Linked DNA regions of Homo sapiens: region 1 is linked to region 2. Evidence: fine-mapped expression QTL. A gene starts in region 2. The other region holds a variant in brackets. All regions are shown on one strand. Distances are from middle to middle.

Evidence for each region. PIP is the estimated chance that this variant, and not a neighbour inherited with it, causes the effect.
Region 1: its variant is fine-mapped to the expression of PRKAG2-AS1 in skin (TwinsUK, PIP 0.95).

The regions. Positions count from the first base shown.
Region 1 is chr7:151,900,005-151,905,378 of GRCh38, reverse strand. It overlaps the pseudogene RNU6-604P. Among named protein-coding and RNA genes, the nearest start is that of PRKAG2, 26 kb to the right of the region's middle. RefSeq lists a silencer at 2,369-2,569. The variant A/G (reference allele first, on the strand shown) is at 2,961.
Region 2 is chr7:151,873,995-151,879,368 of GRCh38, reverse strand. It overlaps PRKAG2-AS1 (PRKAG2 antisense RNA 1), which reads right to left and starts at 2,327. Exons shown (of 3, transcript NR_038926.1): 1 at 2,229-2,327; 2 at 1,503-1,532; 3 at 146-807. It overlaps PRKAG2 (protein kinase AMP-activated non-catalytic subunit gamma 2), which reads left to right and starts at 2,254. Exons shown (of 16, transcript NM_016203.4): 1 at 2,254-2,862. The coding sequence starts at 2,749. RefSeq lists silencers at 1,760-2,189, 2,952-3,001, 3,062-3,201 and an enhancer at 3,392-3,511.

The sequences.
Region 1 (5,374 bases), 26 kb before region 2:
TTTAAGTTTGCTTCTCAGTAGATCACCGGTTTCTTATAGATTTTTATTCTCCTGGAGTTCCAATTGACTTTTTGTGTGTGTGTGTTTGACAAAATAATACTTTGCACCTGATCACTACGTCATTTGGCTTTGTAATCATCTGTCATCTGCCTACCCAATGCATTCATCTTGAAGTACTCTGAGTTTCTGCTCTAACTGGCATCATCGAAGCAATATTTTTTTTATTTGTTTTTGTTTTTGTTTTGAGACGGAGTCTCGCTCTGTTGCCCAGTCTGGAGTGCAGTGGTGTGATCTCAGTTCACTGCAACCTCCGCCTCCTGGGTTCAAGCAATTCTTGTGCCTCAGCCTCCCAAGTAGCTGGGATTACAGGTGTGCACCACCATGCCAGGCTAGTTTTTGTGTTTTTAGTAGAGACAGGGTTTCACCATATTGGCCAGGATGGTCTCGAACTCCTGACCTCAGGTGATCTGCCCACCTCGGCCTCCCAAAGTGCTGGGATTACAGGCGTGAGCCACTGCACCTGGCTAATAATATTTTTAACTTCTAAGAACTTCTCTCTGATTGCTACTTTTTACAACTTCTTGTTTTATGGACTAACACCTTGAATCTCTCCCATAATACCAGTTAGAAATAAAAAGTCTTTTATTTCCTAATGATCATGGTTTTCTCATGGGTTCGATGTTTTATTGGTTCATATTGATTCATGCCTTCTTCTATGCCGTTGGTTTTTCTCAAGTACCTGGTAAACCTTGTTGTCTGTTTATATTTTTAAAAACTAGGCTGATTGACAGCAATGGCTGGCACGGGTCTCCTCTGCTGATTGACAGCAATGGCTGACACGGGTCTCCTCTGCTGATTGACAGCAATGGCTGGCGCGGGTCTCCTCTGCAGTCTGGGCTTGCTTTCCCACTTGCCATCTCTCTAGAGGGAGCCCCTTACATGGGTGGTGTGTGCCAAATGGCAGGATTCCCACAGGGCCCCGGGTCAGGGTGGCAGGCTGCCCCTGCCCCCAGCAGCCATCGGTGACCCAACCCTATCCTTTCAGCACTCCCCTCTGCACACCCAAGGCTGCTGGCTTAGGTCAGTGTCCTAGTTTCCCATGGCTGTCATAACATCTAGGGGTGGGTGACTTTGTCCCATGCCTTTCTTTTAGTTTCTGGTGTTGCCAGCAGTCCTTGGCTATGAGTGCACATGGCTCAGATCTCTGCCTCCATCATTATACGGCCTCTCTCAGTGTGTCTTTGTCTATGTCTCATCTCTTCTTGTAAAGACATCAATCCCAGTGGGTGAAGACCCACCCTAATGGAGTCTGGCATCATCTTACCTTAAATGCAACTCCAAAGACCCTATTTCTAAATTAGGACACATCCCCAGGTCTTGGGGGTTAGGACTTCCACATGTCTTTCTGGGGGACACAATTCAACCCACAGCAGCCGGGTTCCTGGAGGTGGATCCTGAGACAGCGTGCACATGCAGCTGGCTCACTCAGGAAAAACCTCCAAGGGAGCGAGGGGAGCAGGAGGGGCGGGTGCTGCCTCAGGCAACATCTAATCTGGACCAGATCCTGGGAGGGAGGGTGGTCTGCAGAGCTGTCCAGCCTCAAGCTGAGGCCTGGGCTTGTGTATCCCTGTGTCCACCAGTCCTGCCCTAGGTGGAGGAGTATAATTTCCTCAGCAGGGTGGCTCTTGTAGGCTGAGCACACGTCTCTGGAGAAGATCTCAGGCGTACGGCCATTGGCCACACACTCCAAGCAGCACAAGTGAGGAAAAGGGCAGTCTCCTCTCTGGAACTCCTATCACAGTGCTCATTCTACCCCCCCGTCTCTAAGCTCTGTTTTCTATTTGATCTCTTTTTATTTTTCTAGTCATTCTAAGTTCTTCAGCTGATAATCCCATATGTATGTGTTGGAGGGTGTGTGTGTGTGTGAGTGTGTGTGTGTGTGTGAGTGTGTGGGTGTGTGTGGGGTGAGAGTGAGTGTGAACCACCGTGCCTGGCCAATATTTAAACATTTTAAGACTTTATATGATAAGATGCATTTCAGAAACATTATACTAATTGGCACTCCCACCAGCAGAGTATAAGAGTATTTAAATGACTGCACAATTTTTTAGTTATCCTGTTATTTTTTCTTAAACTGATGCAAATCTGTTTTGGAAACCAGATAACATAATATAAGTGTATGTATATAAACATACACAGACCTATACATCTATTTGTATATATACATATGTGTATACACACATATACAGATAAAAATCTTTCTCCAAATAATCTTAATGATCTGGGCACCAATATGAATGCAAAAGGCCTTTATTGCCTCTTCTACAGAATAGTGATAAGGAAACTAATTACAAAGGACAGAAGAGTGAAGTCTGGATACCGTTCTCATCACGTAATCCACGTGAACATCAGAAACGGGACATATCACCGTTGTGCCCCGCCCGTTAGGATGCAATGACAAAAACCACAGCATCAAACAGACTCTTCTACTGTCCCCATAAACTACTGAGGTTTCCTAGAAAGTCAAATGTCTCAGCCTCGAATCTACCATCAAACAGTTCAGTAAGAAAAAAAGTGTTATTTGCATAGTACTTGCAACTTTTCTATAAGCTTGACATTGTTTCAAAATAAAACGAAAAATATAGGGTCAGAGGCACAGTGGGGGAGGAAGGGAGGGCGTCGTCACCCCTGAACGTCGTCAAAGGCCCTGCTCTTGGTTCCAGGCTGTGCTGTCGTCTTCAACTGTTATTAATTTTCAAAGGGGCGCTGTGGGTTCATTTTGCAGGGGCCCCACGGATTATGTGACCAGTGCCGGTAGCGGCTCCCCTGTTGCTAACCTCTGGCTTTCCTTTGCTTGGCGCACATTTCTTTGTTGTGTACGTGTGGGTGAGCATTTCTGAATCCTGACGCTGGGACCTCTCCCTTCCAGATCTGCATGAGTCTGCCATGCTGGAGGACGG[A/G]AGACGGCTGCTCTCTCAGATTCTTCTCCAAGCTCAACAAGGCCTCGTGGTTGGCCTCGGGAATAAGCAGAGCTTAGATTGGCCCATGTGCGAAATATTTGGCCAGGGGTAGTCCTGCCACTGGCTCCACGGATCTATCTTGGTTCAAGATGCTCCCTTGATGAATATGCAGATTATGTAAATTCTTCTCTTTTTTTCAGCAGCTTAACCACTAGGTTGGAACGACGGCCAAGTTCAGTTTTTCCTCTGTTCATCAGTCAGTTCTTCTACCTCAATGCATGACATTTCTTTAGTGTTCAAGCCCTTCTTCTTTGTTCGGCTGAAGGAAGAATAACCATAATGGTGGTTAGGAGCAGGGGTTAAATCCAGTTCTGCCACCCACAAACTACGTGGGTTGAGCAAGTTACTTAACTTTTCTGTACCTCAGTGTTGTCATCTGTAAAATGGGTTTAATGATAACACCAGCCCTTCCCCAGCTTTAAATCTTTCTCTGACTCCCCGCTACCCACCTGACAAAACCCAGATCCTTGATGAGGAGTGACAGGACCTCCCTCCCACCCTCTTGGGGCATCCAGAGCCCCTCCTGTCTCCTTCTGTGCTAGACGCTTTCTCACACTTGGCCTCATTTATTTCTGGCCACGGATTTGCAAGGGGGCATTATCTTCTCTATTTTACAGGTGAGGAACTGGAGCTTCGGTGGCTGACAAACTTGCCCCACATGTCACTGGCCGGTGGGAGAGCTGAAGTCAACCCAGGACCTCAATGTCCTTCCTCTTCAGCACGTGCCCTGCCGTCCCCATGTGCTCCAGCCCAAGCCAGATTTTCTGCGATTTCCAGAACATTCTGTTCTCTTTCATTCCTCAGTTTGTCTATCTACTGCTCTCCTCCCCAGTGCCTTCAGAAAGGGATGAGTACATACATTTGGCAAAAGTGGGGTGGGTGTGGGCACGAGGGAACAGACAGTAGACAGGAGGGTGGGAGCCCTGGAGTAATAGACGCAGTATTTTGGAGAGGGTTTTTGAGCAGGGTGGGAATGTGTCCCCGAGCCCTCCCTTTCCTGAAGGTGGAGTTCTGGCTTTCTACATGGGATTCCGAGAACGAAGCTTGTGGTTTCAGCATTTCAGACTGAGGTTGAAAAGTGCACAGAGCGCGTCTGCCTCTGATGGAGTTAAAAGCAGCTTCGTCTGGAGTGCAGCGGTCGTCATGGCGATGCATAATTACCAGGGTTTCACTGGAATTGGGAGTCACTGCCCAATCATTGACGATTGATCCGCACACTTTTCCTTTCTTCCCCTGCAAGAGATTTCCCTGGAAGGCAGGCATAGCCACGAGAAGGCACTTCAGGCCTACGTGATTCCTAGCGCTCAATGTGAATCACTTTCTTTTCTTGACTGGGGCCAAGGGAAGATATTTTGTTGCCACAGGCAGCTTATGACAGGGACCTAATGATTTGCGGTATTCCCTGGATGTCCCTGGAGCTCCATTTCAAACCCCAGTGCACCAGGAGTCCTGTTTCACCTGCCAATTTCCTGAACCCACCTTGCACTTGGCTTCTCCAGGACTTGCCCCTTCCTCTCCCTGAGAGTAGAGCCCTGAAGAAGCAGTGCCTAAGATTTCACAAGTCTCACCCTAGCAGTTATCCCAACCGTTATTATGATTTCACTGAACCTCACCCGTCCTTCAAGGCTCAGCTCAAGCTTCCTTGGTGAAGCACTCTCAGTGGGGAATGCACGCCTTCTGGCTTCCTCCACAATGCCCCACAGCTCTTGGCCTGTGTCACATTCATTCATTCATTCATTCATTCACTCACTCAACATCGATTGACCACCTACTAAGTGCCAGGCAACTGTACTGGGTTCTGGAGCCTGGACAAAACAGACAAACGTCTCTGTCCTCATGGGGCTTAAAACCTTGTGTGGAGCAGACAGTAGTCATGGTATATAGGTAAGGTAGGTAGTGCATTAGAAGGTGACACGTGCCAAGGAGAAAAATAAGCAAAGGCGAGGTAGGAAGTGTCAGGAAAGGGGGTTTCCATTATTTATGCATCTATTTTTTGAACACCACGAATCTGTGTGTCATCCTTGCACAGAAGCTGTGCTCATCTTCTCCGTATTGTTCCAATTGTAGTGTATGTGCGGCCACACAGAGTACTGGGATTTCCATTTTAAAGTGGGGTCCAGGAAGGATTCACAGAGAAGAGACCTGTGAGTGGAGAACTACAGGGAAGGAGAAGGTGAGTCATCTGAGTGTCTAGATATAAGGACGCTCCAGGCAGAGAGGCCAGCCAGCACAAAGTCCCCAAGGCAGGAGGGAGCCTGGCATGTTGAAGCGACAGCTTCTGGAGTGGAGGGAAGGAGGGGATGAGTTGGGGGAGACAAGCTCAGAGAGGAGAGGAGGGCAGATCCTTAAGGCCC
Region 2 (5,374 bases):
CCTAAAGCGCCCCAACATTATAACAAGAGACTGTGATGAGGGCGACGAGAGTGCTAAGCCAGGAACCCTGGACAAAACCCAGAATTTATACCTCGTCATATCACAAGGACCAAAAAAATTAAAAATTAAAAAAAGGCTCTTAAAATGCAGGCAATACAGTAAAATGTTTTAATGTAGGAAGCACTAAAGTCTTTGTTCCAACAAAATTAACTCAGAGAACAAATTATTTTACATATGTATACAGATCAATCAACAAAAGTACACATTATAACAATTGCTAAACACTGTCCATAAAGAAAACATTTCAAATGAGAAGCGCCATCGCGGTTTTCTCCTTCTGGGTCACCCAGTGGAATGAGGGCCCTCGCCAGGGGCTCTTCCCAGACGTCTCTTCACACCAACCGGCTTCCTTCTGATGGCCCCATTTTCCTTTAAAACCAGTTCTCATCAAATAGGGTGTTTTATGCACCCTGGCAAATGATCATTTTGACAAGGATTAAAACTGTAAGCTAAACAGATGACACAAATGACAATTGGGAATAATTTTTAGTGGGGACAGAGGCTAAATACTACCCCCTCCCCTTTTCTACTTCTAACCAATATCTTGAGCATTCAGTGGGACAATACAGTCTTGCTGGGTCTCTTGAAATCCTCTAGCAAGAAGCCAGCCAGGAGAAGACCCAGAAGTCCCACACCTGTGGGGCCAGGATGGCTGCTTGGTTGCTAAACCCAGACAGGGTCCTTCCAGTGCATCTGCCCCTGTCAGGCTCTGTCTCGAGACTGGGGATCTTCCAGGCTGGCTTCATTCTGGACCAGAGAGCAGAGGAGAAGGAGAAAGAATATAAACCCACCCCTATGAGCCAGGGAACCACCCAAGCTGTAAGGATTTTGTGCAAGCTGCTGGAACTCGGGTTGGAAAAGCCACCCGGCAAGCAGCTGAAAGGAAGGATGCTTCTCCCTGCGTGGGCGCACGCCTGCTTCCTAAGAGATGATCCTTTGGGTGGGCTGATCATGCCTCCTCCTCTGGGGAGGGAGTCCTGCGAAAGCACGCACCTCAAAAGGAGTAAAGGCCCTATGGTGTCCCCAAAGCGACCCCTGTCGCGTTCTTTCTGCGGGTGGCCTCCCTGCATTACTGATTACTCGGAGCGGCTGAGCTGACGTCAGCATTCTGGGAGCGCCAATGACCTTTGGGGTCATCACATCCTCAGAAACTAGAGCAGGAGGGGAAGCGACCCCCAAGCCAGCACTCCCCCTACTTTCCACCAGGGAGCCGAGGTCGCGCCATCCTGGGGCGCATCTGGGGGTGGGGGACACACCAGCCCCCTCCCCCAACCCCTCTAGGGCCCTCGGCAGCAGGCGGTACTGGATGCCCACCCGGGGCTCTAAAGGACCTGGGCCGCACCGGGAACCCTCGCCCGGGTCTTCGAGCCCTCCCCTTCTCCCAATTCTTTCCGCAGTCTCAGGAGCCCCACGTTTCCCGCGGCGTGGGGACACGCACTTACCGCGGATCCACTGCGCAAACCTTGATGAACCTGAAAAAAGCAGGGTGGGGTGGGGTGGGGTGAGGGTGGGGGTGGCTAGACCCTGCTCGCACCCAGCGCCACGCACCGCTCTCTGGGCGGGTTCGAGTGCGCGCGCCGGGCGGGGCGGGACCCGGGGGCTGCGGTGTTTCGAGAAGCACGTGCTACTTCGCGCGCAGCGCCCCCGGAGACTGTGGGCTTCCTCGCTGCCTGGTCTACGGCAGGGCGGGCGCGGGGGCGTGTTTCAAAGGGTAGGGCACACAGTGAGACGCCGGGAGGCGGGATGGATCCGAAACCAGCTCGCAGCGAGTCCCAAGCGGCTGCGGCCGCCGCAGGGGTCTGGGCGCGGCGACGAGGGCGGCGTGGGGCGACGGGGAGCGGGACGGTGGCGCTGCACGCCGCGCACTTCCTGTTCAACACGCGCCGCCTCCCACCACCCGCGCTCCCCGAGCTTGCGTCGGTGCCAGGCCCGGCCCCTCACTGTCCCCTTGCGGTCCCCTGGGGCCGCGGCGCGGCGGGGGGCGAGGAGCGGGCGCCCTGCCCTTCTTGGCCCGCTGGACTCCGGGCGCCCCCTCCGGCGCGCAGGGCCGCGAGCGCCGCCGCCAGAACTTCTGCCAGCGGCCGCCCGTAGCCTAATTGCGCAGAGGGCTCGCCTTGCACCTCCTCTTCCCCCGCCGCCCTCCCTCTCGCCCAGAAAGGAGGACGGACCCAGCTGCAGGCTCCGAGCTGGTTTATTCTGCGGCCGAGGATTACATTTATGCACGAACGGGCTTACTGGTTCCAGATTCCCCACTTGGGCACAGGCATAGGAGGCTTGTTTTCCAAATTGCTGGTTTTAATTGCACCTGCCTTTCAGATTACCTCTGGGAATCTGTGGGAGGAGCCGAGAGGGTGGAAAATGTTTCTTAGCTTTGCAAAAGGAAGAAAACTTTGTCACCCAGCGGGAGACCTCAGCCACGAGTAACCCGGGGAGACACCAGAACCGGGACGGGCTTTGACTGATTTGCCTACGAGGGTTCCGTAGGAAAGGACGCTTGAATTCGGCGCTTCGGCGGCGGCGGCGGCCGCGCGAGTTCCCTGCTCACCCTCCCTCTCCGCGGAAGTCCCCACGAGGTGGCTTCAGGGTGTAACAGAGCGCGCGGCTCCAGTCCGAAGGCAGCGGCCGGGGGAGGGAAGGAGGGGACCGAACCCCCGAGGAGTTTCGCAGAATCAACTTCTGGTTAGAGTTATGGGAAGCGCGGTTATGGACACCAAGAAGAAAAAAGATGTTTCCAGCCCCGGCGGGAGCGGCGGCAAGAAAAATGCCAGCCAGAAGAGGCGTTCGCTGCGCGTGCACATTCCGGTGAGTCCCAGCACTCGGTCCCCTGCTCCCCAGCCCTCCTGTCGCTCCCGTCCCCGGCGCCGAAGCGGTTAACGCTGGACGCCCCGCGCGCGCCGTGCGTGCCCCTCCTGTCACTTCGGGCGGCTTGGGGAAAGGGTAGAGGGACAGGGCCCGAGCTGGGCTGGCGGAGCCGGGGCTCAATCTCTCTCTCTGCCCGCGTGCAGCCAGGGCTGGGGCTCCGCCTGGGGCGGGGGCTGGGCGGCTGCAGACTAGAGGGGGCGCCGGGCGCGGCGGGTGGGCGGCTGGGCGTAGCCCGGTATCCAGCCGGGTGCGGGTGCGGGGGGCGGTGCGTTGTGTTGTTTTGCTGAAAAGGGACGGTGTGGACTGCGCTCCGGGGAGGTGGAGCCCGCGCTCGGCTGCTGGAGACGGAGAGAGGGGAGGGGAGGGAGGAGAGGGGAGGGGCGGTGGGTGGGGAAAGCAGCGGGGCGGGGGTTGGGGGGAGCTGTGTAGCTGCGTCTTCCAATGCACCCCCTCCGCTCCAGTTTCTCTCCGGGCGTTTCTGGGCCTGGAGCGGGGGTCTCCTCTGCCGCCGTTCCCTTCCCCCGCCCCGGGAGTGTACTTTGGGTCTCTGTGGTATTTGGGGGCTCGGAGCTCCCTAATCCGTGCAGGCTGCATTGAACTTCAGCCCCGTCCGCGCCAGCCGCCCGGGAGGACATTGGCGACTCGGATCTGCCTGCGGCTTCACTTTGTCCAGCCAGAGGGGCGGCGGGCCGCGTAGTGGTTCTCTTTTCGGAAGGCGCCCCGGTAGCCCGCGGCCACTGTTCCTCGCCTCCACGTAGCGGGGTAGGGCGGTGGGAGGTGTGGCCCACTGGGTCACACCCTCCGCCTCAGCCAACCAAGTAAATGTTTGTGTACACACACACACACACACACACACACACACACACACACACACACACACACACCAGAGTGCTCCGTAGAGAAAGTTATTTTGCTCTCCCGGGGCAGGGTGGGAGTGCGCAGTGAATGGGCTGTCCGGACCCCTCATTAAAGCTAATCCTTCCCGACAGGGTCAGGCGCAGCTGGCATGGCCGAGGCAGGCCACTCACTTCCCACTGTGAATCCCAGGGCGCACTGCCCCGTGTTTGCTGAGCCACCCTTCTTTTAGACGCCCCGCTAAGGTCCTCCTGTGTAAACTCCGGCCCACACGTGCCTAACGCTTGGGTGAAGAGGGTGGAGTCCAGGGGCGGGTCTCCAGACACCTGATGCCAAGTAGCCCCACAGGGGCCCTGGGCCAGCCCTCCCTGGCTGGAAAGCTCTGGGGCTGGAAACTTGGACCCCTGGCTGCTGTGTGGCCCCCACGGTGGTGACTCGATTATGCAGGAATAAGTGTTCTATTTGAAAATGAAACATTCTTGTTTACATCTCTCATGTAAGACATTTAAAACCATGTTCGTGAGTTAAAAGTTAGATGTTGCTGCCACAAACCTCTTAAACAGTGATCACTTGAGCTAACCGTGTAACTACTGTTTCTCCCATTTGTCAAATGCAGGAAATAATACCCATTTTTCCTGCTTTATACGGATATTGAAATAAAGTAATTCATGGGAAAACTCTTTTTTATTGTTTTTTTTGTTTTGAGTCAGGGTGTCACTCTGCTCCCCAGGTGGGAATGCAGTGGTGCAATCATGGCTCACTGCAGCCTCAACCTCCCCAGGCTCAAGTGATCCTCCCACCTCAGCCTCCTGAGTAACTGGGACTACAGGCATGTGCCACCACACCCATCTAATTTATTTATTTTTTTTGTAGACATGAGGTTTTACCATGTTGCCCAAAGCTGGTCCACATGAGCTGGGCTCGAGTGACCCGCCCACCTTGACCTCTCAAAGTGCTGGGATTACAGGCGTGAGCCATCACACCCATCCCGGGAAAACTCTTGACAAGTGTAAAGTGTCCTATAAATGTATGGCTTATACATATACATATACATATACATATACATCATATACATATACATATACATCATATACATATACATCATATACATATACATCATATACATATACATATACATCATATACATATACATATACATCATATACATATACATATACATCATATACATATACATATACATCATATACATATACATCATATACATATACATATACATCATATACATATACATATACATCATATACATATACATCATATACATATACATATACATCATATACATATACATATATATCATATACATATACATATACATCATATACATATACATATACATCATATACATATACATCATATACATATACATATACATCATATACATATACATATACATATACATCATATACATATACATCATATACATATACATATATACATATACATCATATACATATACATATACATCATATACATATACATCATATACATATACATATACATCATATACATATACATATACATACATATACATCATATACATATACATCATATACATATACTTATACATATACATCAT